Homo sapiens: one gene and its partners. The protein of the gene in region 3 interacts with the protein of the main gene of each other region in a pairwise test. Each region holds a gene or a part of one and is shown on either strand. Other genes may lie near its edges. The genes, in order: PTPN9, SLC35A4, CPLX4 and PLN.

Region 1 (7,929 bases), on a different chromosome or scaffold from region 3:
CTGACCCCTGGTGTCCTGAGGATCAGTGGGCAAAACAAATGTGAAGTGTAAATAGTGAGTTGAGAGACTCCATCCTCTCCTGTCTCCAATCAATGGTTTGTACTACTCAGGTCCTGCTGTTTCTTACTCCAGTTTAGTCCTAGAACCATTTGCTTGCCTAGGGAGAAAAAGCATACTTGGCCCGGCACGGTGGCTGACGCCCAACACTTTGGAAGGGGGAGGCAGGCAGATCACTTGAGCCCAGGAGTTCAAGCCTGAGGCTGGGAGTGATAGCTCACAACTATAATCCTAGAGCTTTGGGAGGCCAAGGTGGGTGGATCACTTGAGGTCAGGAATTCGAGACCAGCCTGGCCAACATGGTGAAAACCCGTCTCTACTAAAAAAAACACAAAAATTATATGGGCATGGTAGTGCATGCCTGTAATCCCAGCTACTCTGAAGGCTGAGGCAGGAGAATCACTTGAACCCGGGAGGCAGAGGTGGCAGTGAGCCCAGATCGTGCCATTACACTCCAGCCTGGGTGACACAGCGAGAGACCCTGTCTCAAAAAAAAAAAAAAAAAAAAAACGGGCAAGATAGTGGTTACCCTTCAGCAGAGTAGTAACTGACTGTGGGGTGGGGGATGGGCAAAAGGCGAGGCTTTGGCAAGTTCAGAATATTCTATTTGTTGATCTGTGCATTGGGCACAGACACGAGTGTGTTCAGTTTATGAAAATTCATCTGGCCGGGTGCAGTGGCTTACGCCTGTAATCCTAGCACTTTGGGACGCTGAGGTGGGTGGATTGCTTTGAGCTCAGGAGTTTGAGACCAGCCTGGGCAATGTGGCAAAACCCCATCTCTACAAAAAATATAAAAATGGGCCAGGCCTGGTGGCACGCACCTATAGTCCCAGCTATTTGGGAGGCTGAGGCTGGAGGATCGCTTGAGCCAGGAAGTAGAGGTTGCAGTGAGCCAGGATTGTGCTGTTGCACTCTATCCTGGGCAACAGAGTGAGACCCTGTCTCAAAAAATAAAATAAAAAAATTCATCAAGCAGTACACTTATATTTGTACTTTTTCTGTATATTACACTTCAATAAAAAGAAAGCAGGCTGGATGCAGTAGTTCACGCCTGTAATACCAGCACTTTGGGAGGCTGAGGTGGGCGGATTGCGTGAGGTCAGGAGTTCGAGACCAGCCTGGCTAACATGGTGAAACCCTGTCTCTACTAAAAATACAAAAATTAGCAGGGTGTGCTGGTGGACGCCTGTAATCTCACCTACTCAGGAGGCTGAGGCAGGAGAATTGCTTGAACCCAGGAGGTGGAGGTCACAGTGAGCCGAGATCACGCCATTGCACTCCAGCCTGGGAAACAGAGCAAGACCTCCACTCAAAAAAAAAAAAAAAAAAAAAAAAAAAAAAAAGTATTCCAGACTGGTTACAATACTGAAACTAAAGGAGTGATGAAGTCAACCTCCAGTCAGCTGTATTGATGCAAAGGAGAAAATATCCTAGCTGAGATAAAGATTCAAATACCAAGGATATCGTCTCTGATTCTTACCAAGGGCAGCCTGAAGTTCCTATTGCATTAATGCAGAAATTAGTTGAGGTCAGGGATTGTTTTTAAAATCCTAGAAGGAGCCGGGCATGGTGGCTCATGCCTGTAATGCCAACACTTTGGCAGGCTGAGGCGGGTGGATTGCCTGAGGTCAGGAGTTTGAGACCAGCCTGGCCAACACAGTGAAACCCCATCTCTACTAAAAATACGAAAAATTAGCTAGGCATGGTGGCAGACACCTGTAATCCCAGCTACTAGGGAGGCTGAGGCAGGAGAATTGCTTGAACCTGGGAAGTGGAGGTTGCAGTGAGCTGAGATCGTGCCATTGCACTCCAGCCTGGGCAACAAGAGCGAAACTCCATCTCAAACAAAAACAAAAATCCTAGAAGGCTGGGCACGGTGGCTCACACCTGTAATCCCAGCACTTTGGGAGGCTGAGGCAGGAAGATCGCCTGAGCCCAGTGTAACTGCCCAATGGGATCACCTTGCCTGCTGCTTACACAGCGGATATATCAAGACAGGGGAATTGCAATGGCAAAAGAGTAATTCACACAGAGCCGTCTGTGCAGGAGAGTGGAGTTTTATTATTATTATTATTATTATTATTTTGATTCAGCGTCTCGCTGTTTCGCCAGGCTGGAGTGCAGTGATGCGATCTTGGCTCACTGCAACCTCCACCTCCCGGGTTCAAGCGCTTCTCCTGCCTCAGACTCCCGAGTAGCTGGGACGACAGGTACGCGCCACCATGCCCAGCTAATTTTTGTATTTTTACTAGAGACGGGGTTTCACCATGTTGGCCAGGATGGTCTCGATCTCTTAACCTCATGATCCGCCTGCCTCAGCCTCCCAAAGTGCTGGGATTACAGGCGTGAGTCACCATGCCCGGCCTGGAGCTTTATTATTACTGAAATCAGTCTCCCTGGAGCATTAAGGGATCAGAGTTTTTAAAGATAATTTGGTGGGTAGGGGCTTAGGAAGTGGAGAGTGCTGATTGGTCAGGTTTGAGATTGGATCATAGGGAGTTGAAATGAGTTTTTCTTGCTGTCTTCTGTTCCTGGTTGGGATGGCAGACCTATTTGGGCCAGATTACCAGTCTGGATGGTATCAGCTGATGCACTGGGTGCAGGGTCTGCAAAATATCTCAAGCACTGATCTTAGGTTTTACAATAGTGATGTTATCCCCAGGAGCAGTTTGGGGAGGTTTAGACTCTTGGAGCCCATGGCTGCATGACCCCTAAATTGTAATTTCTAATCTTGTAGCTTAATCTGTTAGTCCTGCAAAGGCAGACTGGACCCCAGGGAAGAAGGGGGTCTTTTCGGGAAAGGGCTATTATCAATTTTGTTTCAGAGTCAAACCATGAACTGAATTCCTTCCCAAAGTTAGTTCGGCCTATGCCCAGGAATGAACAAGGACAGCTTAAGGGTTAGAAACAAGATAGAGTCAGTTAGGTCTGATTTCTTTCACTGTCATAAAATCATCAGTTATAATTTTGCAAAGGCAGTTTACCAGGAGTTTGAGACCAGCCTGGGCAACATAGTAAGACCCCTATCTCTACCAAAAAAAAAAAAAAAAAAATTAGCCAGGTGCAGTGGTGTGCACCTGTAGTCCCACCTACTCAGGAGGCTGAGGCGGGAGGATTGCTTGAGCCCAGGACTTTGAAGCTGCAGTGAGCTGTGATCACGCCACTGCACTCCAGCCTGGGCAACAAAGTGAGACCCTGTGTTAAAACAACAACAACAACAACAACAACTTTGGGAGGCCGAGGTGGGCGGATCACGAGGTCAGGAGATTGAGACCATCCTGGCTAACATGGTGAAAGCCCGTCTCTACTAAAAATACAAAAAAATAAAAAAAATAAAAATAAAAATTAGCCGGGCGCGGTGGCGGGTGCCTGTAGTCCCAGCTACTTGGGAGCCTGAGGCAGGAGAATGGCGTGAACCTGGGAGGGGGAGCTTGCAGTGAGCCGAGATCGCGCCACTGCACTCCAGCCTGGGTGACAGAGTGAGACTCCGTCTCAAAAAAAGAAAAACAAAAAAGCCAGGCGCGCGGTGGCTCACGCCTGCCTGTAATCCCAGCACTTTGGAAGACCGAGGCGGGCGGATCACAAGGTCAGGAGTTCGAGACCAGCCTGACCAACATGGTGAAACCCCGTCTCTACTAAAAATACAAAAATTAGCCGGGCGTGGTGGCTCGCACCTGTAATCCCAGCTACCCAGGAGGCTGAGGCAGGAGAATCGCTTGACCCCGGGAGGTGGAGGTTGCAGTGAGCCGAGATCGCGCCACTGCACTCCAGCCTGGGCGACACAGAGACTCCGTCTCAAAAAAAAAAATAAAAAAAAAATCATAGGAGCATCACAACTCACAGCACCTTCCTGTTGTCTGAAGGCCCCTCCTTTGGGTCCCTCAGGACTGGCTCCAGGGCTTCAGCCTTGGAACTAGTTGTGGACTTTGGGTCCCTTTGGAATATTTATCTTTGGCTTGGAATAATGCAACAACGTACCAGACCCAGCCTTGCCTTCTCTATGCCCCATTCCTCCCCAAATGACTCCAAGACTGTACCCCTAATCCTGAACCCTTTGCTGCACTTGCCCTAGTGAAAATCAAAGGTCTGCAAAGGCCGCGTCATTCCTGAATGATGTTCGGAGTCTGATGTCGTTTCTATGGGGGATTAAAATTAGCGACACTGGAGATGAATTACAGGGTGCAGCCAGTAAGGAGGGAGAGAGAGGGAGGCAGGTGCGATTCCTTCCACCTAAGCATCCTGGCCTGGCAGGCAACCTTTCCAGGGTCTTTCAGGCTGCAAGCGACAAATAGTTGAGGATTGTGGGTTTCTCACGCGTAGGTGGCAGCGGCAAGTTAACCCCAGGAGAGGTGCCAGTCAGCAGATAATTTGCAAACGAACGTATTCTCCTCCTCCTCCGAGGATCTGAGCCTCACGAAATACTCTTTTCTTCCTTTTTCTCCCTCCCGCAGTCGAGTTGCCTTCCGTCCAGCTAGGGTCCCCTCCCCGCCCGGGTCCCCTCCCCCTCCCGGTCCCCTCCCCCGCCCGGGCTCCTCTCTGTCTCCCCCTCCCGGACTGCGTCCTCGCTCCGCCGGGCCCTCCTCGCCGCCAGCTTGTGAATGAGACGCTCAGTTTCTCAATGGAGCCGCGGGGGGCTCGGGCGGCCGCGGGGCGGCCGCAGCGTTGGCCGTGAGTCAGGAGGGGGGCGCGTTTCCCTCGCTCCCTCTCCACTCCCTCCCTTTCGCTGCGGCCGCCCGCGAGGAGCCTGGCTGAGGCAGCCGCGCAGGTCGCAGGGCCAGCGTCCGCGAGGACGGCCCGGCTGGGCGGCCCCGAGCTCTGTGGCGCTGTGGAGGAGCGGGAGCGCGGCCGAGGAAGCGGGGCGCCGAGGGGGTCGGCGGCCTTCGGGAAATTTCCGCCGACCCTTCGCTCCCGGCTCTAAAAGTTCCTGATTTCCTATTTCCTTTTAAATCCCGAGTGGCTGTTAGCTCTTCGCCTGCACTTTTTCTTCCCCAGGAGATAAGGGGGAGTGTGAGGAACGGAGCGAATAATATAAAAAAGGATTTCCTCCCGGAAGAGAGCGGCAGTTCGGAGAGATTTTTCTTAAGGAAGCAGAAGCGGCGTTTGCGGCCGCTGCAGGCGCCGGGCCCTGCCGGCCACACTATGCGCGAGCCGGCCCCGGGCTGCTGAGGCGCGGGGACGCGGAAGCGGAGGCCGAGCGCGCCGGGCTCCCGCGCTCGCGAGCGAGTTTTGTCCGCCCGGCGGCGGTGGCGGGGGGATGGAGCCCGCGACCGCGCCCCGGCCCGACATGGCGCCGGAGCTGACCCCGGAGGAGGAGCAGGTAAGCGGGCCCGAGGCCGCCGCGTTGGGTGTGTCCGGGCCCCCGAGGCCTACGCCGGCCTCTGCCTCCCGAGTGCCGGCTCTTTGCAGCCACGGGGCCGCAGCCCCCCGCTCCCGTGCCCGGCTCGCGGGCCTCCCTCACCGGCGACCGCGCCCCAGGCCGCCACCCCCTCGTCGGGGGACCCACGGGACCCTACTCCCGTTCCCGCCGCTTCTTTCGCCGAGGCTTACCAGCCTCAGACGGTGCCCTCCGCACCCCACCCCCTATTCCAGGGGCAAAGTTCCTTGGATCCAGGGGCCTTCTTCCCGAGATTTGCAGAACCGCTGCTTGCCCCCGGCCCTTCCACTCCCTTGTAAATGTTTTCCGTGAGGGTTTGTGGCTTTTGAAGGGCAGGAAAAGCCCCAGTTTGGGGGGTGCTTCCTGTGGGGATTATCTCCCTTCCCGAGGAGAGGGCTGAGAGTATTGGATGCATAGATGCCCTAGATTTTCAGAGGAGCCTCTTAGGTTTCTCAGGCCCACTTGGGCAGGTTATGGAAGATCCAGCCCTTCTCGTGTTCCTAAAGTCCCTGGCCTTGACCCCCCTATTCAGCTATCCCAGACGGGGCGCATCTCCTCACCCGCGCTTCCCTACCCTCGTCTCATCTGACTGTCTCCATCTTTCTGAAGCTTACATTGAGCTCTATTGTTCCTTAAAAGCCTATGACCTTTAGTTTTCAGAAGGAAGTGGTTTGCTGTCTCATTTTGGGGGCCCTTGTAACTTTCCCTCCCGCACATTCCAGCTGCGGAGACAGGGACCACTCCTGAGGAAGATGGGAAGGTCTGCTAGCTTAGACTGGGAACCCTACGGGCTTTTCGCTGTCTCTTCCTTGGCACTGCCCATACCCCGCCATAGCTATGCTCGATTATAGTCATAGTCTGATTCCATGTTATAAATAAAAAAAATAAAAATAAACATGAAAAAAGAAAAAGGCAAACCATGCTGGCAACCCATTTCAAGCTCTACAGCTCTTGTTTCCAAGGACCACATTTGCTAGCACAGCCTCTAGTGTGAAGACAGTCCAGTTTTACAAACTATTATTGGCTAATGGGCTTGTTGACCTGATTTTTTAAAGTCCTTGTCTTTTCTCCTTATTTGTGGAGATGACATTTTTCTATTTGGCCTCAGGCCACGGTTTTGTCTTTTGACACCTGGTGATGAAATCTGTATGGGAAAAAAATTTAAAAAGAATTCTGCTTTGTACAAGCAGTGGTAATGAATGTCCTGGTAACTGCAGTTGGATGTTAATAAAATGCTAGTCAGACCCTAGTGCAAGCAGGTGGCCAAGGAGCCCATTCTGCCAGAATTGGGAAGTACTTCAGTACTAAGATAGGATGTGTTGGCTGATTTTAAAGGGACAAAATCTCTTTCTTTCATCCTTTTCCTTGGGTCAGTCAGATTTCTGTTTTTAAGACTTAAAGCCATCAGTATTCTATGCAAATAGCATCCGTTGCAAATTTGAAAACTAAAACCAGGAAAAGTAAATATTAAAGTATTGATAGTATTGACATGGTATTGGCTTTACTTTGTACATAGTGCATACACATATATACAGATGTGTTTAACTAGTAAAAACCTTATCTTTTACCCTGAATTGAATGTGATGGGCATTAACAAGGACTAGGATGGAAACGGCAAAATGTTTATTAAAGTCAAGAGATTGTGTGTGTGTGTGTTTTTAAAATCTTATCTCTTTTTTCTACAAAATATTATTTTTTTACAAGCATTTCAAAATATTGAAACAAAAGCAGTATAGTTCTAATTATGGTAATGCCTAATGTTACCATATTTTAGTTTAATATCACATAAGAGTACTCTCTTTTTTTTTGAGATGGAGTTTTGATTTTTTGTTTGTTTGTTTGTTTTTTTGAGACAGAGCCTCGCCCTGTCATCTAGGCTGGAGTGCAGTGGCCTGATCTTGGCTCACTGCAACCTCTGCCTCCAGGGTTCAAACGATTCTCCTGCCTCAGCCTCCCGAGCAGCTGGGATTACAGGCGCCTGCCACCATGCCCAGCTAATTTTTGTATTTTTAGTAGACGCGGGGTTTCACCATGTTGGCCAGGCTGGTCTTGAACTCCTGACCTCATGATCTGCCCGCCTCGTCCTCCAAAAGTGCTGGGATTACAGTCGTGAGTTACTGCGCCTGGCCGGAGTTTGGGTTTTGTTGCCCAGACTGGAGTACAATGGCGTGATCTCGGCTCACTGCAACCTCCATCTGCCGGGTTCAAGCGATTCTCCTGCCTCAGCCTCCTGAGTATCTGGGATTACAGGTACCCACCATGCCCAGCTAATTTTTGTATTTTTAGTAGAGATGGGGTTTCACCGTGTTGGCCAGGCTAGTCTCATCATACTCCTGGCCTCAGGTGATCCACCCGCCTTGGCCTCCCAAAGTGTTGGGATCACAGGTGTGAGCCACTGCACACAGCCAGAAGTACCCTTTTGTTTTTTAACTGAGTCTTGCTCTGTTGCCAGGCTGAAGTGTAGCGTTGTGATCTCGGCTCACTGCAAACTCTGCC
Region 2 (7,954 bases), on a different chromosome or scaffold from region 3:
CCAGGTTTGTGATCTCTGAAGAGGCTGCCGACCCGGAGCCCAAGTAAACAGTGGAGAGCAGCTGCAGGGCAATCCCACCAACCCATTCCCACCCATGACTCACCATACAGGCAGCCTGCACAGCTTCAGAGAGTCCCCCTGCATGGGGCTGGCACCAGAAGGCTGCGCACTGGAAGCTCTGACGGCCCAGGTCAGCGATGAGGCCAAAGGTGTGTGGGTCGCGGCCAACACCAATAAATGTCACAAGGCGCACAGGGCACTGCCACAATGGCTCCTCCTCTGTACTGGCCTCTGCCTGCCCACACCAGGCCTAGTCACTAGAGGGCCAAGCACGGGCCAGACCCACTTAACTTTTCCGACAGCAAGCAGTGACCCCTCAGCATCCCTGCTCACCCCTCCAAAGCCCCCAACTTCACCCTCTTCTGGTACCTGAATGGGGTGTGCAGTCATGAGAGAGTCAGACACACTGAGCATGGTGGGGACCCAGGCATTCCGGTCCCCCCTGGCGGTGAGGGTACCAATGGCCTCGTTCAGCACATCCATGCCTGGGGGAACATACCCAGCGTGTCTCCCAGTGTAAAAGAAAGAGTCTGCAGGGAGTGTCTAGCCCCCTCTCACTGATTTGGGATTCAGAGATAGGGAATAGGATAGCTGGGGCAAGCCTTAGAATTCTGATTTGGGAAGGCTGGTAGACCCCAGGCCATAACAAGGCCACGGGAGGACTCTTGAGAAATGATAACAGGCCTCACCTCACTCACCTTCCCCTTGCCTCACACAGCCCACCACATGCAGCCCCCTCAGTCCTCACCCATGGCCTTGGTGACTGGCAGTGTCCCCATATACAGTGCCTCGTACTTCTGAGCAGCTTGGCTTACCGCATCCAGCAGCTCCACTGAAATATACACACCAAGTTGGCCTGGAAGCTCTTTCAATTACCCTTTTCCCCACCCTTCTCAATGGGCCAGGACTCAGGTCAGAGCTGGTGCTGGTAGAAGAAATGGCTCATAGATGCTCCTCCAACTAGTGGCTTGGGATCCCTGAGACCAGACATCTCAGAAATTTATCCACAGAAGTATTAAATAACCAGAAATCGCCCCCCCACAAAGCAGCACCAAAGCACCCCAATGCAGCAATGCAGGTCTCCCCTCCCCATACCTTGCCGTGGCAGGTCTTCAGGAGAGATGGGGTCTGGGGAGCAGCAAGAGGCATCACCACTGACCTCTACTCGCTCTGACAAGATCTAAAACACAATGAAGCCAGCATGACCCACAGGGAGAGAGGGGAATTAGGGTAAAAGGGCCAATACCACCCCAACTACCTTGGAAGCTTCAGACCCAACCCCTTACCCACATTCCCTGCCCCACCCCTGACACTTACCTGGGCACAAAGCCCATGTAGGGCACTGGCAATGGCCTTGGCAGGGACATCACAGCAAAACACATGGCACTTGAGCATACAGCTATCTTTGTCACTTGCCACAAAAGCGAAGTCCCTAGCAGGGGCAGAGATGGGGCTGGGGTAGAAGCTGGTTAGAGGCAGGAGCCTGCAGGAGGCTGGAAAGTCAGGCTAGGGATATAGCAGGGATGGAGTAGGGACATCAGGGATGGGGCTCAGGATACCTGGTTTTCACTCACCTGTCACTGTTCCGGAAGCATGTGGGAGCACAGAAGGGAATCAGCCCAGCCTCTCGGACTCTCCCCAAACTGTCCCTGCTGAGCTGGGCCCACCCTCCCCAACCAGGGCTGGACCAGGCAGGGGAAGCAGTCCTGGGTCCACATCAGAGGATCTGTGTCCAGGGGTTCAAGTACTGGGGATCAGCATCAGTGGGGATCACAGCCTGCAGCCGGGAGGGAGAAGTAGCTCTTGCTTGGGGGATGTAGGCATCCTCACCGGCCCTTGGAGCTCCCCACGCCCCACACACGGATGTGCACCAGAGGCTGGCAGTGGATCAGACTGTGGTCCAGGGGATTCACTAGGCTCATGGCATCCTTCTTCAGGATCATCAGCATGTTCTGGCCCTGCCAAGGACAGAGGTCAGCCCAGAGCTCAGATAAAGGTCATTGCCATGAGAAATAGGAAATTCAGGGACAGCTACCTCTGCTGGGCCCTGGGCCCAAACCATTAAAGGGCCCAGCCAACTCACCTCACCCCAGGCACCATCTGGAGGCTGGCTCCGGCTGCGGGTCTGGGCCAGCTGCTGGATACAGTTATTGACTGCAATACTGCTCTTCCCCGGTGCCAGGTCCTCTTCAGGTACCTCTACCCAGCCCAGAGAGCGGACTGCAAAGCACTGACAGGTTGGGGGAAGGGACAGGAATTAATAAGGATGGAGTAGGGTGGCAGGTGCCACAATACATACTCCCTGTCTTCACCCTTGATCACCTCTGTTCAGTCCAATCCCACCCTTGTCTTTCCCTTGGGACCTCCCAATGCCCTCAGGCCCAAGTCACTACCTTAGCCCCTGGCTCCATGCTCTGGATGTAGGATTCCCCACCATACCAGGACAGAGAGTTACTGAAACAGAGCAGAGCTGTTAAGAGGACCACATTTCCTACAGTAGGGACACTGGTGAGGCCTAGACAACTTGATAAGCACAGGATGAGGGGCAAGACCCAGAATATAGCACCAGAAATATAAAACCAGAGCAGGGTAGAGCCCAGGACATATTAACGTAACATAAAGTGTGACTCAGAATTTGAGGGAAAATTCAGGACATAGGACCCAGACACAGGACATAGAATAAAAGTCACAAGGCTAGGTGCAGTGGTGGCTCACGCCTGTAATCCCAACACTTTGGGAGGCTGAGACGGGTGGATCATGAGGTCAGGATATCGAGACCATCCTGGCCAACATGGTGAAACCCCATATCTACTAAAAATACAAACATTAGCTGGGCATGGTGGCATGTGCCTGTAGTTTCAGCTACTCAGGAGGCTGAGGCAGGAGAATGACTTGAACCTGGGAGGCGGAGGTTGCAGTGAGCCAAGATCGTGCCACTGCACTCCAGCCTGGATGACAGAGTGAGACTCCATCTCAAAAAATAAAAAATAAAAGTCACAAAATAGAACAGGGTCCAATATGTGGACCAGAACCCCAAAGTGGGACAAGAGACCCTAGAACAGAGGACTTAATGGCCAAGGTCTAGAACATGATAGGTTAGGACCAAGAATATGAAAAACATGTAGCTACAAACAAGAGCTTAGAACAAGGGATAAAACTCAAAATACTGACAGTTAAGAACCTGGGACAGAGCCAAGAACGTAACAGAACCCAAAACATGTGACAGAATCCAGAACCTGGGCTGGAAAGCAGACCATGGGTCCAGCTGCATTTTTGAACACCATGGAACCCCAAGCCTTTCATTTTGCCTGGGCCACCCGTTACCTCCGGTCCAGTGAACTCTCCAGGCTGGAGAAGGATCTCCCTTTGGGGGGCCGCAGTCCCCAGATCCCCTCCGTTCCCTGTAGAGTGGGAGTTAGTCAGTTTAACAGCAGACCTAGGTCCACACATGGGCTCAGACCTCCTCCTCACACTCTACCTACCGTGCCTGGGTCCTCTGCATCTCCTAGTTCCCAGGTTGGGCGCTGCCACTGGGTGCTACCGCTGGGTACATGCCAGTAGTAAGTACCTGCAGCATCGTGGATCTTCCTCCAGCCAGGAGGCAGGCCAGCCTCCACCTCCAGACTGTGGTCCCCCCACAAGTCATCTACAGGAACACCGGATTAGAGAGGAGGGAGCATATGATTTGTGAGTTCAGAATAACATGCTGTCATAATCCCCTCTCCATCCCCAAAATGGGTCAGTTCTTAGGCTGAAGATCCAGGCTCCTCAATCTTGAAGACATCACATGTAAAGACCGGGTTCATTCGCCCCCTGGTCCCTACACAGAGAGGTATCCCCCACCGTCTTTGAGCCCCAGAGTAGCCTTTCGGATTCCCTCGTCCTCCCTCAGCTCCTGGTCTTCCCACCGGGCCCCTCCGTGCACACCATCGCAGTTGACCAGAATGATGGCCAGCATGTAATCCTTGCCCAGCATAACCCCGGCTGCTCCCCGCCAGCCTCTGCCGGCCCGCACTCTCAGCCCAGCGCGACCTCTGGAGCTACTGCGCCTGCAAGCCCAGCCTCTCTGCGCCGCAGGCTGCGGGGCCAGCTGGCGCCGCACAAATACGGGGCGGGACACGGGGCGGGACACGGGCCGGTCCCGGGGGAGGGCCTGAGCCGCACAGCCCGCCCAGGGGTGGTGCGTGTAAACGGGCGTCTGGATCCCCGAATGGTTGCGTGTTTCCGTGTGTGGGTCCGGGGGAGGCCCACGAACGCCAGCGAAACCGCTGACACCACCGCCCAACTATGAACTCATCAGGCGCCTGAAGACCGACACGCCGAACATGCGCCGCGCGCACTCGCGCACGAGTGAGATCATCGCGCCCCGGTCGTGAGTGCGCTCACACGCAGCCTGAGACTCGACGGGAGGGGGTCACGTGGAAGTATCTGAGAGAGGCGTACTTGGCCACTAGGAAAGCACCTCCCCCTTTCCAAAAATGCTCCGGAAGTGCCTTCGCCCTCCGTAAAGATGGCCGGGGCAGTCGGCACGAGGGAGGCGGGGATGCGCCTGCGCAACAAGTTCGGCGGGGAAGATGGCGGATGACAAGGTGAGTGGCCGTGGGGGTGATCTGCAGCCGGGCGTGGTCTTCACTCTCCTTGACCTTTTTAGTTCCGGGGAGAAGCGACTCTGGAGCGGCTCAGGAGTGAGGATGTCCCTTGTTTCTTCTGCGGCTCCTGTCAACTGCCTCAACAGTGTGGAGTGGTGTGGGGAGAGCATTCGGCGAGGCGGGAGGAGCCGTGGATCCCCCAGATGTCCCCTCCTGGGAACCATCACGAACCCGTTACTAGCACAGACTCAAAAACATTCACCCTTAAACACTCCTCACTTTACCCCATTCCCTAGCTCCCGAAATTTTCTTCCCAGTGACACGATGTTTCCAATCACACGGACACTCACACCACCCTCATTCAAACACTCCTTTGCATACATTCTGAATTTCATACTTATATGCGATCAAAATCACTCAGTCCATTTACTTACACACTTGCCGACAGTCTTTTTTGTCATTCTCAGTCACATCCAGTCACTCACATTCAGTTTGGGATGTCCTTGGGAAGAAAGAGGTAAAGCCCATCCAGGAACCAAGACAATAAAATTGTCCAGGAAACTGCCTCGGTCCATTACTCACCATTGGTCTAGAAGCTCAGCATTACCCACACATTTACTAAATGTCAGGCACTAGAACATAGTAGCCAAGACAGACTGGTCACGACTTTCAAGGAGCTCATAATGGAGTCAGTAGTGGTTTCCTGATGGACCTAATTAAAGGTCCCTAGCTGTCCCTCCTGCCTTTCCTACATACTGCTTGCTATATAAAATTCTTGTCAAGGTTGATGTAAGTTACTGGTTCAGATCCCATCTGTCAGTCCCTTCCTGGCCCTCATTTGAATTCTGTGCTTTTCAATGCTTGTCTTTCTTTGCCACTGCCATCTCAGGAAGCTTTTATAGGAAAAGGTCTTTCTGGCTCACCCCATCCCCTCCCAATTCCCAGCTTCTGATGGAATTGAGCAAGGGGTGGGGCTTAGTCAGACTGCTGGAGCCAGCCTCTCGCTTGTCCTAGGATTCTCTGCCTAAGCTTAAGGACCTGGCATTTCTCAAGAACCAGCTGGAAAGCCTGCAGCGGCGTGTAGAAGACGAAGTCAACAGTGGAGTGGGCCAGGTAAGGACTGTCCCACCCCACCCCTGCCTTAGGCTTTATTGCCCAACATGCTCTTGAGAGTGTTAAATGGATGGTAGAGATTTCTTCAGCAAGTGATTATTGAGGGCCTATTCTCAGTCACCCTAAGGACAATTTTTCTGAATGGCACATGAACTAATATCTTAAGTAGTGGTTAAGTAGGTGAAGAGGGGAGGAAAGAACATTCCAGGCAGAACAGCATATGTAAAGGCCTTGTGGTAGGAAGTAGCATTATAAACATGAGGGGTGAAAGGAGGTCCATTTGGCTACAGTAGTTGGGGAGCATGCTAGGAAATGAGGCTGGAGAAACCGGCAGGGCTAGGGGCATCTCTGACCTTGTGTGGCGGTGGAGTTCTATGGTTGGAGCTTTCTGACCCCAGGGTTCTGAGATTGTGTGATCAGAACTGCTTGGTTCTTTTTCTGGCCCCAGAACCTTGGGAAAAATCTGGAGAAAATACCACGGTTGTCCAGGGTGAGGAGGAGCTGGTGGTGGAATGCTCTAATCCCAGCTTGAGTAGCCCCTGGACAGTCAGGAAGGAGCCTAGCTAAGTTTCCTTCTGCATTTTTCTCTGCAGGATGGCTCGCTGTTGTCCTCCCCGTTCCTCAAGGGATTCCTGGCTGGCTATGTGGTGGCCAAACTGAGGGCATCAGCAGTATTGGGCTTTGCTGTGGGCACCTGCACTGGCATCTATGCGGCTCAGGCATATGCTGTGCCCAACGTGGAGAAGACATTAAGGGACTATTTGCAGTTGCTACGCAAGGGGCCCGACTAGCTCTAGGTGCCATGGAAGAGGCAGGATGAGCAGCTCAGCCTTCAGGTGGAGACACTTTATCTGGATTCCCCAGCTGTCATCCATTTGCTATCTCCAACTTTCCTGCCACCTTCATCCTTGCCTCCCTTCCTGCAGATTGTGGACAGTAGTTCCTCAGCCTGCACCCTGGATTCCTTCTTCCCCTTCCTAGCTCCATGGGACTCGCCCCAAGACTGTGGCTTCAAGGACCACCAGCCCCTTACTCTTCAAGCCCTGACTGTGGAGTTGGTAGATGCCTCTGATCCTCAGTATTCTCTCTGGCAATGTTCCACGGCTTCTCCTTCCTGGGAGCTGGCTCCATAACTTGATTTTCCCCAAACGTGTTGCAATCCCTGCTGCCCCTTAGCCACCCAGGGTCTTGTGTGGGTATGAGTGTAGAGGATGGGGGTATGCCAGGCCTGGGCCGTCCCAGGCAGGCCCGCTGGACCCTGATGCTACTCCTATCCACTGCCATGTACGGTGCCCATGCCCCATTGCTGGCACTGTGCCATGTGGACGGCCGAGTGCCCTTCCGGCCCTCCTCAGCCGTGCTGCTGACTGAGCTGACCAAGCTACTGTTATGCGCCTTCTCCCTTCTGGTAGGCTGGCAAGCATGGCCCCAGGGGCCCCCACCCTGGCGCCAGGCTGCTCCCTTCGCACTATCAGCCCTGCTCTATGGCGCTAACAACAACCTGGTGATCTATCTTCAGCGTTACATGGACCCCAGCACCTACCAGGTGCTGAGTAATCTCAAGATTGGAAGCACAGCTGTGCTCTACTGCCTCTGCCTCCGGCACCGCCTCTCTGTGCGTCAGGGGTTAGCGCTGCTGCTGCTGATGGCTGCGGGAGCCTGCTATGCAGCAGGGGGCCTTCAAGTTCCCGGGAACACCCTTCCCAGTCCCCCTCCAGCAGCTGCTGCCAGCCCCATGCCCCTGCATATCACTCCGCTAGGCCTGCTGCTCCTCATTCTGTACTGCCTCATCTCAGGCTTGTCGTCAGTGTACACAGAGCTGCTCATGAAGCGACAGCGGCTGCCCCTGGCACTTCAGAACCTCTTCCTCTACACTTTTGGTGTGCTTCTGAATCTAGGTCTGCATGCTGGCGGCGGCTCTGGCCCAGGCCTCCTGGAAGGTTTCTCAGGATGGGCAGCACTCGTGGTGCTGAGCCAGGCACTAAATGGACTGCTCATGTCTGCTGTCATGAAGCATGGCAGCAGCATCACACGCCTCTTTGTGGTGTCCTGCTCGCTGGTGGTCAACGCCGTGCTCTCAGCAGTCCTGCTACGGCTGCAGCTCACAGCCGCCTTCTTCCTGGCCACATTGCTCATTGGCCTGGCCATGCGCCTGTACTATGGCAGCCGCTAGTCCCTGACAACTTCCACCC
Region 3 (7,957 bases):
ATGTCTGTGAACTGAAATAGACCAGTCATACAGTGTTGGCAAAAGAAATACTTTAGGGGCTAGGCATGGTGGCTCACACCTGTAATCCCAGCACTTTGGGAAGCCAAGGTGGGAGGATCACTTGAGCCCATGAGTTTGAGACCAGCCTGGGCAACATAGCAAGACTTCATCTCTACAAAAAATAAAAAATTAGCCAGGTGTGATGGTGCATGCCTGTAGTCTCAGCTGTTCAGGAGGCAGAGGCAGGAGGATCGCTTGAGCCCAGGAGGTCAAGGCTATAATGAGCCATGGTTACGCACTCCAGCTTGGGTGACAGAGTGAGACCCTGTCACACACACACACACACACACACACACACACACTCACACACAGATTTTGAAACGTTCGGTATAACACTGCTGAATATTTCTGGAAGACAGAAGAATCAGCCCGGGATACATTTCTTAAAATGGCCACTTTGGGAGACAAAGGATTGAGATGCTTTGAGTCTCCACAGAGTCACAAATGGTCTCACAATCTATCAGATAACAATGGGCCAAGGTAGTACTGAAGAGACTCTTTGGTTCTGTAGCTCAATGAAAACCATACTGTCATGATTGGGGAATTTCTTTGCACAGCTGGTATATAGCCTTGAGTTTGTATCTACAAGAATATTAACCAATCCTATAGAAATGAAAACAAACATGCTACTTGGCCTGGCATTTCAATACAGTTCATTAAATATGTATTAAGCATCTATGATGTACATGACACTCTATTAGGTAAAACACAAACCACTAAAATGTCTCCAGTAGGCAGTTATTAGGATTAGGACTACGTGTTTAATTTCCTTTGTGGTTTCCGTAATGGTCCTTCTATTTCCCAAGACTTTTTCCTCTTTTTATATTACCTCTTTTTTCCCAGTTAAAATAGAGGTTGAAAATTAATCCCAGTGAATCTCATCTTTAGATCATTTCTACACTTAGCCAATTAGCCAAGTGTGGTGACACATGCCTTGGCGCTTGGTGACCTTTTTCTTCTTCAGTTCTGCTGACCTTCATGAGCACAGAGGTTTAGCTGCATGGTTACCCCTGAAATGTTGTGTCACCCGCTAAGAGGATATAACAACTGAGACAGGACAACCTAATCACCATGATTTCCTTGGGGAAGGTCAAAAAAGAAATGATACCACTAGCCGATTTTAATTACAGGAGCAAAATTTAGGTATTTGATGTGAAAAGAAAAATCCCAGGTGAAGGACCAAAATGGATTTATGCTGTTTGAATGTGATCTCTTTCTAAAATTTAATTCCACTAATGGGATTATTGCTTCTTTAGCAAATTCTTTGGGTCAGATACCATCAAAATTTTCAAGTTGAATAGGCCACAACGAATCTGTGTTTACAAAGGTGATCCATTAAATCAGAATGAGGCATGATTTTAAAAAACTATGGCAAGTAGTCTTGATCCTGGGAGCTGGCAAAGAAGGCAGCAACCACTATGAGGTGGATTTGTAAGCACTAAGATGCTACTTCTGTTATTGGTGGAGGGTGTCCAGGTTCTTGGCATTTTGAACAAGGAATTAGACAAAACGCACAAACAAAGCCAGGAAAGAATGAAGCAACAAAAGCAGAGATTTATGGAAAACAAAAGTAGACTCCACAGACTGGAAGCGGCCCCACCATAGGGGCTCAAGAGCCCCTTTGCAGAATTTTCTGGGGTTTAAATACCCTCTAGAGGTTTCCCATTGGTTACTTGGTGCACACCCTATGTAAATGAAGTAGTGGCCTGCAATCAGTCTGATTGGTTGCGGAAAGCAAACAATCAGAGACTGAAGTGAAGTTACAAAGGTTACACCCTATGCAAGTATCTGATTGGTTGTGGAAAGCAACCAATTAGAGGCTGAAGTGAAGTTACAAAGTTACACTCCTATCCAAATGTCTGATTGGCTGCAGAAAGCAGCCAATCAGAGATACTTTGAATTTTCCATCTGCCACGTAGAAAAAGTTGGTGGGGGTGGGGGTGGGGGTCGGGGTGGGGGTGGGGGGCCGGGAGTTGCAAAGGGAGTAAGGAAGTAGCTTCCAGTCCTTTTGTTACTTAGGTGTGGAAAGTTGGGGTTTTCCTTTTAATTTAGTTCTAGGAAGTCAGCATGAATTGGCCTTAGGTTCCCTGCCCCCAGACCCTATTCTCCTGTCTCCCTTTTGCCTGAAGATAACTCTCCAAGTGCCTCCATCATCCGATGTAGTACCTTGATTACTTCCATTGAAAGCGATTTGCTCAAAAATAAGCCATTAGGCCTAGTGGCAATCATTCATTCATTGTTTTCCCCCAAGATTCTTATTGATCACTTACTATGTGCTGAGCATGATTCTCAGAGATGGGGATGCAAAGGTGAACAAAATTGCACTGGTCTCTCTTATGGAGCTTACATTCCAATGGAGTAGATGGAAAGGAAACAACTAAATCAAGGAAAATATACTTTCAGGTAGAGTGCAGTACTATGAAGAAAAATAGAATAGGATAGAGGATTAAAAGGTGGGGTAGTGGAGGCAGGGTATCTTAGGATGGTCAGGGAAGTCCCTCTAAGAAGGTGAATGAGAACAGAAACCTGAATTAAGCAAGGGTGAGCCACCTAGAGATGTGGAAGAGCAATACAGGCCAGGAGGTTCCACAAGGACATAGGTGGGAGCAATCTTGGTTTAAGGGCCAACAAGGACATGAATGTGATTAGAATGAGCAAAGGGAGTGTGGCTGAAGAGGCTGGCAGCTAGGCAGTGGGCAATCTTGCAGCAAGGAGTGGGGATTCTATGCAAGGACAGTAGGGAGCCATGGGATGGGGACACCTAGAGGTCCCATTCATGAATCCAGGGCATTCATTTCCCCTTTCTGAAGGAACGGAAGATTCTACCACCATTTCTACAAGATTCTACAGCCAGGCTTGGTGGCTCACACTTATAATCCCACCACTTTGAGAAACTGAGGCAGGCAGATCACTTGAGGTCAGGAGTTCAAGACCAGCCTGGCCAATATGGCAAAACCCTGTCTCTACCAAAAATACAAAAGCTTAGCCGGGCATGGTGGCGCATGCCTGTAATCCTAGGTACTCGGGAGACTAAGGCAGGAGACTCGCTTGAACCCAGGAGGCGGAGGTTGCAGAGAGCTGAGATCCTGCCACTGCACTACAGCCTGGGCAACACAGTGAGGCTGTCTCCAAAAAAAAAGATCCTACACACCAGCTAGTAGTTCCTGGATGTCCAAGGGCAAAGGTCATTGTAATAAATCAAGGAGTAAAAAGTTTTTTAAGTCGTGACCTCATTCTCAATGGAATTACCTGTTGAGGAAATAATAAGATATTTGATTTCATAAAGCACTCTCAGGAGACCTTCCACGGCGACCCTGCTGAAGCTACCACCGAAGAGTCCCCATAATGCATGACACCCCCTCTTCCTAACCCCCTCCACACAAACATACATTCAGAAAAGGACGGGACAGGGAGAAACTCCTTTACACATGGGTGCTGGAGTTTAGAATTGACACCCTCACCATTAATATTTCCTAATTCCTCATACAATGGAATTTTTAGAATAGATTTTATAATAAATCTAAATAATTACTTATAATAAAATGTAGACCGAACAGACAGAAACACAAGGCTGTGGCTTTTATTTTATGGTTTGAAAAGTTCTATGAGACAACATTAATTAGTAACATTCCTCAGTGGACTGCAATGTAGTTTATTATAAATGGTAATTTAGAGATAATGGTATGAACGTGTTAAGTTCCAAGCAACCCATCTAAAAGAGAAAGTGGAACTCAATATTGATGGGCATTCTCCTCGAAGCCCTGAGTACAGCTTATATTTCACCCTAAATTATCTTTTTTAGCCTTTCATATTGAGACCATTTAAGCAGCATTTTAAAATAGATTACTAAAAGGGAAAGCAGACGATAAAATATATAAAGCAAGCATTTTAGGCAAGAATCCAGATTATGTAATTCTATATGATCAGAGAGATAATCACCTGGTTTCTGAGAGGACTCATGCCTTCAGATAAAATAACAATGGATTACATCTCTTCCTTCCCACCCCACCCTCTTTGGCAGGCTTTAATTAGAAAGATACTAGTGTAGATTGAAGTCTTAGCCATACTCAACTCTTCCCTTGACCTGAAGAAAACCACAGCCATAGAGAATCTGGTGGGATACAAAACATTGTCAGTTTCATCCAAGTACACCAGTGAGCTTAAATAGAGCACCCAGGAGGTGCACTCTTTATGCAAGAGAAAAAAGGTGACCCCTTACATATTGATGATTTGACTCACATAATGGTCTTACCTTCTGGATCAGAGCCTTGAAGTGTCAAGCACATCATTTCCATATAGACAAGTAATATTTCCATGCAGGAGAAGGCTAAGATAATCTTCCAGATGTAAACCAAGGACCTGCTGTCTGGGTCTTTGCATTTGTCAGTTGTGTATTTATGTGCGGGACACAGTAACTATTGAAGCAAACCGAATTCAAGCAAACTAAAAAGCAAATCCTTGCATAGTACTTAAAGTCCAATGAGATAAAATGATGGATCGAAAGGATTATTTTTGCTTAATGAAGCATTCTGGGTTTTGAGTCTCATTGGACTCAGTTTTTCAACAGGATGTTTTGCTCAAGGGCTGGAATTTGGAAATTCCACAACAGCTATATAATCAGTCAGCTCTGATTAATTTAATTGAAACAGGACTCTTGATGAAGCCCTGCTGTGCTTATAATTAAAAATTTAGAAAGGGGTAGATGATGTGGGGATTTCTTTTTCCTGTGAAATTAGCTGAGTGTATTAATTCAGAAGGTAGGCAGTTGCCTCTGATTGTATGCTTCGGTAATCTGAACCATCTGCCTCTATATACTAAGGAGTTCACCACTTTAATCCAGCTTACGGCCGACAAACCACTCTTCTCTATCAGTATGCCCTTGAATAGATGAGGTTGTGCAAAGTCCTTTGCTCTTAAATGTATTGCTGTCATTGAGAATATTTGGAGGTTTTCTCTTGGGTTTGTTTGGATTTTTTTTTTCAGCTTTTGTCTGAATTTTGGTTTTATTTTTCTGGGGCAGAGAAAATGGCTTTCCTTATGAAAAGTATGATAAGTAACCAGGTAAAGAATTTAGGATTTGGTGGTGGGTCTGAAGAAAATAAAGAAGAAGGAGGTGCATCTGATCCTGCAGCAGCTCAAGGGATGACTAGAGAGGAGTATGAGGAGTATCAAAAGCAAATGATTGAGGAGAAGTGAGTACATGCTATTTCATTTCCCTTAAAAAGCAAAGGAAATTCATTCTGGCCATACCTTCTTCAGTTCTCCAGTTTATTTCTCTTTGCTTTTTAAGATGCCTTTCCTTTTGCCGTTTACCTCTAACCCAAGGAAAGGTTGTTCTTCTAAAGTAAACGGTTCCCTAACATCAGCAGCTACTATGTTCTATGTTCTACATGTATGAATGGAAATGAACAATAATAAATGAATCTATATGTTGTTCTTAAAGCAGCTTAACACTTTCTGGTCTAGGCATGTTTTGATTGACCTCAATTTAATTATTTAGATGAAAAGTGGTAGGTTTAACTATCTTTACATTCTTTCTAAACTTCACCCTCTTAGCACGTAGAAAGTCTTCAAATTGTAAGAATTCAGACCTTATACCTAGAAAAGGGCCTAAAATAACATAGAGGGCAGCTTCTTTGATCTTGCATGTGAGAAAAAAAAAAAAAACCCAGGAAGCATAACATGACAATTATGTCATAAGACTTGGCTTATCAAAGACTATGAATGGATTTGTGGACTGTTTAATATGGAAATTCTAAACATACAGAAAAGTAGAATAGTAGGACAAATACCCACATATACCTATGACATAAAATCAACAGCTTACAGTTTGCTACATTTGCTTAAAGATTAAAAAGATAGATGGTAGATAATAGCTTTTAAAGTAAATTACAGATGTCATGTACTTCACCCCCAAATACTTCAGCCACCTTCCTCCAAAAAATAAAGGCATTTTCTTGGCTATATAAAATATAACAAAAATAAAATATAAAATATAAGCAACATTTAATTGGGTATTATAGAATGTGAATATCACCAACAACTTTTCACCACTTGAAGACTGATTCTGAAATAAATGTAATCTCTGTGTAATTTTTAAATGTTTAAGGTAGAATTAAGATTCTTTTAATAATCAGTTAAGAAATGAAACATCAATCTAGAGGTTAAATGTTTATCATATGTTTCAAAAGAAAAGTATTTCTTTTTTGCCACCAGGACTCTTTTGCTAATGATCAATTACATAATAGTTGCCTAAATCCTATCGCTAAGATGATTATAGGTGAAAAGGTTAATGACCTGGAGGAAACAAAGAAAGTACAAAGACTACGTTTAGTGGAAACCTTGTCTATTGTATTTTTCTGAAAGAAATCATGGCTTATAGACTACCTAGAATACATTATGCTTGGTTCTGCAGTAACTTAAAGTTGGTTTTTAAAAAACAGTCAATGCAACTAGCAAAAATGATGGTGCTAAGACTTGGGCAAAAGAAGCAGCATTCCTTGAATATTGGCTGATTTTACCTATGGCATGCAAAAGAACAAAAAGCTTAAAAGCAAAATAAGTACTGTGTAATGAAGGATAGAAGACAAAAATCAGCATCAAACATTCTCAGATCAAGTAGGCTAATGAAAACAGAAATGTAGACTACAGTTGTGAGCATGCAAAATATCACCTAATATGTTCAAGCAGCAGATCCGATTGCAGATAAGGCATCTATTTGATTAACTAATGTCCTAGTTTTCCTTAATTTTATATCTGGACAGATCAAAGCTCAAAATGGCCAAATCATACAGTCAATCAGCAGACTGAGTTGTCAGCTACTCAGCTTTTTGCATATGTGTGTGAGAATATTATATATTTATGTAGTCACTCAATGTAAGAAATAGTGTCAGGACAATGGAGCATTTGGCTTCCCTATGATAAAGAGGGATGACTTTCAGTCCATTGTTTGAGTTTTCAAGAATTTCACCACCTAGAATGCAATATGTAGTAGGCATTAAAAATAATTCATCACAAGATAAACGCAGAGAGAGCTACAAACAGTTTAGTATATATAATAATTAAAATCAATGTTAGCAAATGAAAGCCTCCTAAACCCATCCTCATCATTGTAGGAAGTGGGGAGACTATATGAATTATAAATAAAAAACTATTTAGCAATGCACTCTATTTAATAATGCACATTCATTTTTATTTTCTTTCTGTGTTCAATGTGTGTGTGTGTGTGTGCGCACGCACCACTGGTAACATTAGTACTGAAAGAGGTCTAAACATAAATAGACTATCTGGAAAGGAAATAAAACAATAGTCTGTTTCTCCCGCCATTTTCTCAATTATATTAAAATGCTTCTTTGCCATAGTTATGCTTCAACAGTTTCTACAATATCATTTGTAACTTGACTCTGACCTTTGTTTTATTCAGTAATTGTTTGGACCCCTAGTATGAGCATAGCATTGTGAGGAATGTACTGAAATGGAAGAGATGGGTTTTCTTCTGCAGGAATTTACACTTTACTTGGTGGGGGGAGACTAGCTAGCTGCATGTGACTATAAACAGAGCAACCAGCTTTTCTGCGTGATTTGTAGACTGGCTCTGGAGGACTGGAATGTAACTCTGCGTGGCATTAGTATCAACAAATCGATCAATGGGGTTTATAGTTATTTGATTTTCAACAAAAGCGCCAAAATAATCAGACCAGGAACGGAAAGTCTTTTCAACAAATGGTGCTAAACAACTGAAAAACATTGAACTTTGACCCCTACTTAACACTATACACAAAAATTAATTTGTCATGCATCATACACGTAAACATAAAAGCCAAAATTATAAAGCTTTTAGAAAAAAAAGTAGGAGAATATCTTTGCAACTTGAAAGTAGATGAAGATTTCTGTATCA
Region 4 (7,741 bases), on a different chromosome or scaffold from region 3:
AATCAAATGTGCACTTGGATATCAGAGTAAAAACTGAGTAGGAAAGAGTCACAACGAAGGGTAGAAAAACTAGTTAATAAACGTCTATGAAAGTTAAGAGGAGAGTTGGTCAGGCTATGAGAACAAAGACATATTTCACAATCTGCATTTGGTTTCTAAGTGAATGGGGAGTCTGGCAGAAGACAGAAAAGGTATGAGCCTCCAATTTCAATTTTGTATCAAAATCAGTGATAGTGCCACCACAAAGTTTGCGAATGCGAGGAGCTCAAAGGGCTGAGATATCAACCACAAAGATAAGAAATTTAATATGTCTGGAGAAATACTACAATCATTAAATTGAAATAGAACCTTCTTAACAATGTAACAGCATCATGATCGGGACCCTATAGAATTTTGAAGCAAGTATTTGGAGACCTAAGGGTTGGTTTTTGTTGTTAAATTTGTTTTGTGATGTATGTGTTTCCCTTTGTTATTTTTGGCTTTGGTTCTGTCCGTTTCCTTTGTACAAAACATGCACTTCTCTTAGAAGTCATACTGCTTATTATTACACGTGCTCATTTGACTCTCAATTGGGAATTTCTTTTTCTCCTGGTGTTATCTTGCACTAGTGGTTACCTTCTAAATGTTAAATTTTCATTTCCATATTATTTGTATACTGATAAACCATAATTTCCTTGAAGCCACGTAGCATGCTATAGCATTTCTATCACTTAGAATGTTTAATAACTTTCCAAAATTTATGTAGACCTATATGAGTCCTTTTCTTAATCCATCTGGCCTCTCTTAATGTCAATGCTCTTCTCCACCCCTCATCAAGATGAGGAAAGAGAATTTGCCCAGAATTCAGATATTTATGAAAAAATAAAATGTTTGGGTCTCCAGGTTATCTGGCAAATCAAGTGAAAAGTGAACCTACCTCCCCCAAATGACCCCTAAGCTTTATAGGTTACTTTATCACTGGGTTATATCAACAGCCCCCCAACTCCAGTTGATGAGTAAATCTTATTTTCTTTTCCCTATTGCCCTATGGAGAGAATTTCCATCCTCTCAATCTCAGACCACTAATTCTTATTCGCAGTTTTGCTTAGATGTTTTTTGAACCAGTCCTTCCCTACGTAGCTTTAAAATTTAAGGCAGTAATTATCAAACCCTCAAGTACCCTCAAGAGATAGGTAAAATCTTCTTCCTGGGTGTCTAGGAGATCTAATCTAAAAAAAGCTCCTTATCTTTGATGTATTGTGAACATTACAAAAATTGATTCAAAGCTTGCATTTTACTGTATCTCTGTCTAAATATTAAAATGCTTTAATTTAGTCATCACTTATATTAACTTCTGGTCAAAAATTTCCAAAAACCGATTCTATTTTGAAGCTTCTTCGCCCTCCGGATACACCACTACAGACTGGAGTTTAAATGCTCAATGTAAAAGATTACTACATACATCACAGTGCCCTTCACAAAACGTTAGTAATATAGCTGGGCGCGGTGGCTCACGCCTGTAATCCCAGCACTTTGGGAGGCCGAGGTGGGCAGATCACGAGGTCAGGAGTTTGAGACCAGCCTGGGCAATATGGTGAAACCCCATCTCTACTAAAAATACAAAAGTTAGCTGGGCGTGGTGGCACACGCCTGTAGTCTCAGCTACTTGGGAGGCTGAGGCAGGAGAATCGCTTGAACCCGAGAGGGAGAGGTTGCAGTGAGCTGAGATCGCACCATTCACTCGGGGCTGAGTAACAGAGTGAGACTCCGCACCCCCTTCCAAAAAAAATTAGTAATACTTTTGAGGAACACATTTAAAATGCTACAAAACTATATAAAAACAAAAGTAAAGACATGAACTCATGATTCAGTTGAAACTGAATACTAAATTTCATTTAGAGCTTAGTAAAAATAAATTTGTAATTATTTTCCCATCCAAGTTCAAAGACACTTTACCCTTAAGAATCCACCTTCTAAAGGAAAAAAGAAAATAAGTGCTAACACTAAATGAACACTGTTGCAGGATCTCTGATAATCACTATGTACACTTCATGTCATTAAACCATCACAAATACTATTCCACAGATTAGGCTGCTTAGGAAAGTTATTTGTATAAAGCCATGTGACCAAAAATACATTCAAACTATAGTGTAACTCCAAATGAAGACTGTGACAAAGCACCTCAAAAAAATTTTCTAGCCTCTAGCTGAGGAATCATTGAGGAACACTCTACTGATAACACTATAACTCATTAATACTCCTATTAAACAACTTTCTGTTTGGGCAATTAAAAACAATGTTCAGTTAAAACTAAAATCTAATACTTCCTAGAGTTCCACATGAGATCATCACCATCATCGTCATCTTCACTAGCTAACCCAAAGGAACAAGGTAAACACAAAAACTCCCCACTCTTGTACCAATCTAAAAAGTAAATTTTTGAATCCATTTTCCAACTGTGTCACACACAGTTGTTAGTATCCTTCTAAGGTGTGTATATGCCTATGTATACTTTTTAAGTAAACTTATAAACATGTGGTAACTAGGGCATATTTTATTCTGTCTACGGCAGCTTCTTGGTTTATCCAACTAAGTATTACTAATTCTATTTTCTTAGAATGAGAAGTTCTCAGAACAATGATCTATCACCTAAATTTCAAATGAATGTGTAACTGGTAGACAAACTTAAAGCAGACTTTCTAAAACTATTAACAGTGCTCAAGAATGCATCTATTTACATCTTAAAAATTTCTCAGTTACTATATGCTACTCTAATGAAAGCTATATTCAAATTATAATTTTTTCCCACAGCATGCCAACAGATTAGGAATTATAAACAGACAGATCTGGATTTGAATCCTGTCTATTCTTTAGCAGCTGGTTATCTCTGACAAATTACTGTAAACCTCGTTAGGCTTCTCGGTTTTGTATTATCAATCATCATTGGTAACTGATAGTACTGAGAGATCCTCATTATGTAAGGATTGAAAGAAAAATGGTTGTAGCACTGAGAAAAGTATCAAACATTATTCTGCAATTTCCTTAACTTGGGTTTTACTTTTAAGTTGTAAATTTTCCCTTGGCAATGTTCACAGGATATCTTTGCTAAAATATTATTTTTCAGTTAGTTTTAAGCTGACTCTTTAAATATCAAATGATTTGCTCTAGAGATGGATTTTCTTTCTTTGGAAGAAGCCAAGATCATTTCCATTTAAGGGCATGTAAGCAGCTGCTGCTACACATTTTAGTTACCCATAAGAAAGTGAAGTGGGCTAAGTTCACTCTGTCATAAGCATTTAAAAAATTAAAAATTACAAGTACCTCCTCTAAAATTAAAGAAGAGATTTAAGAATTAATATTTTCGAGTGTGGTGACTTAAGTAAATCTAACATCTAAGACAACAAATTAGATAAACAGAGAAGAGGAGAATGATGCCCGGCTTTACAAAAAAATTATTTCCCCAGTTCTACTGTAAGATAAACTGTTCTAGGAAGTTCAAAATATCATCTCACTTACTAGCATCTCATTTTTATAGTAATTTTCAGGAAAGCAACTGCTAGATTAAATGAGGCACATCCTTTCAAAAACATTACAAAACTTAAATTTCAACACATCAAACCTATAAAGCCTCATTAACTGAGATGTAACTGATTTGGAATCTGTAATTATTTCTTTTTTGCCATAAAGTTGCCCTTAATACTGCATCAGTTTATTAAAAATTTGGTAAGATTGTGTAATAATTTAATGCAATTGTTTTTAAAAAATCTTAAATACTTAAAGTAGCATATTGCTATTTTGGGGGTGTTGTATGTATCAGTTTAAATATAAGTATTACTATTCACAAATATATTGTTAAACTGCTAATTGAAGAAAACACAAATGAATTAAATACATTTATTAGTTCTTTAACTGTAAGATAAAAATAATTTTTTAAAACAAAAAGCAATTAGCCTGATTTTCTCATACTCCTTCTCCCATACACACAAGAACAAGAACAAAATAAGAAAACAGGTATAAAATTTTATTGTGTAAAAATATTTCACTTTCACTAAAAGCTAACATTATGAAGACACGTATTAAAGCAACAGCAGCAAGAATTCAATGAAAGTTGTTTTGCTTATACCTGTGTTTATTTTTCTCATAATTAAAATTCCTGCAGTAACTATTTTAGCTCTTCAACATCTTCACCATTAATATTCAATTATCTCTAAGCCTGAAGATGCATGAATCTTTAACAAAAGCTTTCCACCACCTCAAGTTTACTTATTTTTTTCATTTATCTACCATATACTGTTTTAAATTAAAAACAAAAGATGAAGCACAAAGTGTTAATGACTTTTCCATACCTAAAGTAAGAAGTTCTAAAGTTTGGTTGTGATAAGACTGAGACTGTGGCTAACCAATCGAAACTTCAGAATTCCTATGTGACATCATAAGACCTCCCTAGAACACTTTTTCTCCTCCACCTACTGCAACTGTTCCCATAAACTGGGTGACAGAGTCAGAAAACTCCCCAGCTAAACACCCGTAAGACTTCATACAACACAATACTCTATACTGTGATGATCACAGCTGCCAAGGTAAGAAACAGATTTCGCTGACTTTGGTAATTCTTACTTTCTATAATTCTTAATTCCTATAATTTCTATAATCTGAACTTTTAAAATGAGTTAATTTTATGAATATCAGTTCAATCTTAGGCAATAAAATGACATGACAAAGTGCTTAAATTTATAAATGCTTATCCATTTAGTGACAGGAAAAATGAGACAACTTTGAAATGAAAAAGGTCATATTCATCTTTGATCCTGGTTACTGGTTTGTCATTTAAATTTATCTTTCACTTTTATTTTGCTTTTCAAATGTGAATTTCTGCCAATTAAAAAATCTTCCAATTATGTTACCATATTTGGTAGTAGTGGTTAATTTCTCCATGCAAAAACAATGACTTAATTTTGTTATTTATTGCTCTGCTGAGAAACAGTGCAGAACTGAGCTATTTACATCTGAACTAATATGAATAGTCATTTGACTACAACATGCACATTATCAGCATGCCTATTCCAATATTATCATAATTTCATACAGTGAATAATGAAATGGAGTTTCAGAATATATAATACAAGCTACTTTTAAAGTGCCCTTGAGGATGTTTCCCCTCTAAAGTCCAGTCAACTTTTAACAAACATTTCTAAAAAAATTCCATGCTATTAATAAATTGAGTTACTGATATTAAATTCAATATTGTATCATAAAGAAGTTTAGAAATTTTAAAACAATGTTCACAAACACAAAAAATCTGACGTTAGAGAATAATTTGATACTTTAAAAAGTTATTTTGACACACGAATATTCTTAACTATCTTATTTTCACACAAATTTGATTAAATGGATTTCTGCCTATTAATGCCTATAGTTTTGTCAAGTTATTATCCTCCAGTGGTACTCCATTTCCTCTCTCGGATTTAGAAAGAAAGGAAAAAATAAAATAAATGCCAGGAATGGAGATGCCACAATCAATTTTATGACTTCTGTTTGAATTCTACCCTATTCTTTATGTTACAATCCTCAATTTAGTAAATGAAACGTTTCCTCATTCTTAGATCTCTGTCAGGGCATACAGAAAATTACATATATTTTATTTATTTTGATTTTCATATTTCATATATATGTTAAAATAAAATTTATCTCTAAAATTCTCAATTCCTATGACAAATGTTAATTCTATTGCTCACTACAAATAAGAACTTTGTAACTCTGTAAGCAGCTTTCCTTAAGACATAAAAAAACATAATTTTTGTCTACCACTGAGGTATCCTAATTGTGTCTCCATATCTCTATACTCATATTTTTCCTTTGATAGTACATAAAAGTCATTCAGTGTAGGTGTCTTATGTTATTTGTGCATTTTTATTCAAATATCTATCAAATTACATTCTCACACTTCAAATTGGGTGTTCACGAGTTATTTTATTGTATCAGAATTTTGCTATATCACATATTACTCTAAAAAGTACACATACTTCTGGATAGAGCAGAAATTATATTAAACTTACCCTTAGCTCACTAGTATGTCTCAGTTAACAGAAATTACAGTTACAGAGACTGCTAAAATTTCAAATATAATGTGGTAGTACCATACATTGTGTCCCAACTAGTTCATCTATACCTTAAGGTGCAAGTTAAGTATTATCTTTGTTTATGAAGACATGTGGTTTCAAAGTAAGTGCTAAAAAAAGTGTTAGATGAAATCAAATGGAAAAAATATGAAAGATGTTTAAATTAAGAAGCATTAAGTTTTAAAAACGCATGAAAGAGCCAGAGTACTTGCTTTACTAAAAGGCGTGACAGCACTATCATTTCCTAAAACTCAAATATCAAATCCATTTTATTTGTATTTTAGTAGGCATAAAGGAAAATGATCACATTTGGGTATATAATCATATCTTTAATTAGTGAGATTAAGAAATAATAAAATATTGCATAAATACAATAGTTTCAGAAAATTTTAATGTATTTTAATGTTTTAATGTACTCATTACACATGTACACTAAATTATGTAATATATTAAATTTTTAATTAAAAAACCTAAAGTCTAGTTACCTCTCCAAATTAGACAATATATTACCAATCCCAGAAATGAGGAGGGCCAATGAACACTTCTTTTTTATTCTTAAAGAGCAATTTCCTAATATACTCGTGTACACAAATATTTCATTTGGTCCTCTTAATTATATATTTGATACTGCATCCCTATTCTACAATTTAGGAAAGATGCAAAAAGGTGAACTGCTCAAGATCACAGAACTAAGAAAACAGGGAAACCTTGGCAGAAGTTTAGGTTTTGTCACTAAGCCACATGCACATCCTCTATATACTGATCAGCATGGCTTAAAGTAAACCATGACACTGACAAACAAAATTTGAAAGCCCCCAAATACTGTAAATGATATTCTAAAAGGCAAAAGGCAAATTCAGAGAATACAAACTTCTATTTTAATTAAAAGCCATTCCACTCCATTTAAATTCAATTTATGCATAGCATTACATTCTTAATAGTCTAAATTATATTCTACTGATCATTTTCAAAACCAGAAATATACGAAAATTACAGATGCCCTTAGTTATTAAGCAATACCTCCTGGAAGGCAAAATTCAAACTAACTGCACAGACTTTAAAAAAAATAACACACCCCAATCAATCAAAGTTTCCTTTTATTTGTTTCATTGCTAAAATACTCATGCCTTCAATTCATCTGATACCTAAAATCCAAGTTAACATCTCCTCAAAACTTTCACAAAAATCACATTTCGATACTTTATTCTAGGTTCCCTAGAATCAAGTAGTCTCTTTGTACAATTTCAAAGTTCTTACCCAGAGTAATTCTGAAGCATGTGTTACCAAATAAACACATGAAAATGAAGCCTGGATGTACAGCATACTCATAGTCAACTGAGGACCTCTAGTGCCTTTGAAAAGGTACTCCATCTTTAGTTTTCAACCCCCAACCCCCGCACAAAAAAAAAGGTTGACTAACTCACTCACATTAATAGGGGGTATATTTATTAAGTGGCATTCATTTTAAATCCTTAAGACTTTCTCAATACTACCTCCCCATATTCTCTTCCCCCAGAAAAGATTCTGAATTTCCAACTCCTACAGGGTTAAGAAGAATATTTTACTTGTAAATACACTTGTAAAGCATTGTTTCAATATTTAAAAAACAATAATGAAGGCAAACCTACAGACAATATAGCAAC

Evidence for each region.
Region 1: the proteins of CPLX4 (region 3) and PTPN9 interact in binary tests that used the Homo sapiens proteins (3 or more experiments, as listed by UniProt).
Region 2: the proteins of CPLX4 (region 3) and SLC35A4 interact in binary tests that used the Homo sapiens proteins (3 or more experiments, as listed by UniProt).
Region 4: the proteins of CPLX4 (region 3) and PLN interact in binary tests that used the Homo sapiens proteins (3 or more experiments, as listed by UniProt).

Annotation. Positions count from the first base shown.
Region 1 is NC_000015.10:75,576,161-75,584,089, reverse strand, and holds the start of PTPN9 (tyrosine-protein phosphatase non-receptor type 9), read left to right. Parts: upstream 1-4,774; 5' UTR 4,775-5,313; coding exon 5,314-5,376; intron 5,377-7,929. UniProt on the Homo sapiens protein: Protein-tyrosine phosphatase that could participate in the transfer of hydrophobic ligands or in functions of the Golgi apparatus.
Region 2 is NC_000005.10:140,560,210-140,568,163, forward strand, and holds the start of SLC35A4 (probable UDP-sugar transporter protein SLC35A4), read left to right. Parts: upstream 1-4,618; 5' UTR 4,619-4,634; coding exon of another isoform or gene 4,635-4,649; intron 4,650-5,663; coding exon of another isoform or gene 5,664-5,762; intron 5,763-6,355; coding exon of another isoform or gene 6,356-6,553; 5' UTR 6,554-6,960; coding exon 6,961-7,935; 3' UTR 7,936-7,954. Other genes in the region: APBB3 (amyloid-beta A4 precursor protein-binding family B member 3), read right to left, coding at 104-295, 430-545, 809-892, 1,156-1,240, 1,378-1,513, 1,635-1,640, 1,891-2,018, 2,144-2,290 and 4 more; SLC35A4 upstream microprotein, read left to right, coding at 4,635-4,649, 5,664-5,762, 6,356-6,553. UniProt on the Homo sapiens protein: Mediates the transport of CDP-ribitol. Does not exhibit CMP-sialic acid, UDP-galactose and UDP-N-acetylglucosamine transport activity.
Region 3 is NC_000018.10:59,315,591-59,323,547, reverse strand, and holds the start of CPLX4 (complexin-4), read left to right. Parts: upstream 1-4,898; 5' UTR 4,899-5,085; coding exon 5,086-5,252; intron 5,253-7,957.
Region 4 is NC_000006.12:118,543,834-118,551,574, forward strand, and holds the start of PLN (phospholamban), read left to right. Parts: upstream 1-4,462; 5' UTR 4,463-4,559; intron 4,560-7,741. UniProt on the Homo sapiens protein: Reversibly inhibits the activity of ATP2A2/SERCA2 in cardiac sarcoplasmic reticulum by decreasing the apparent affinity of the ATPase for Ca(2+).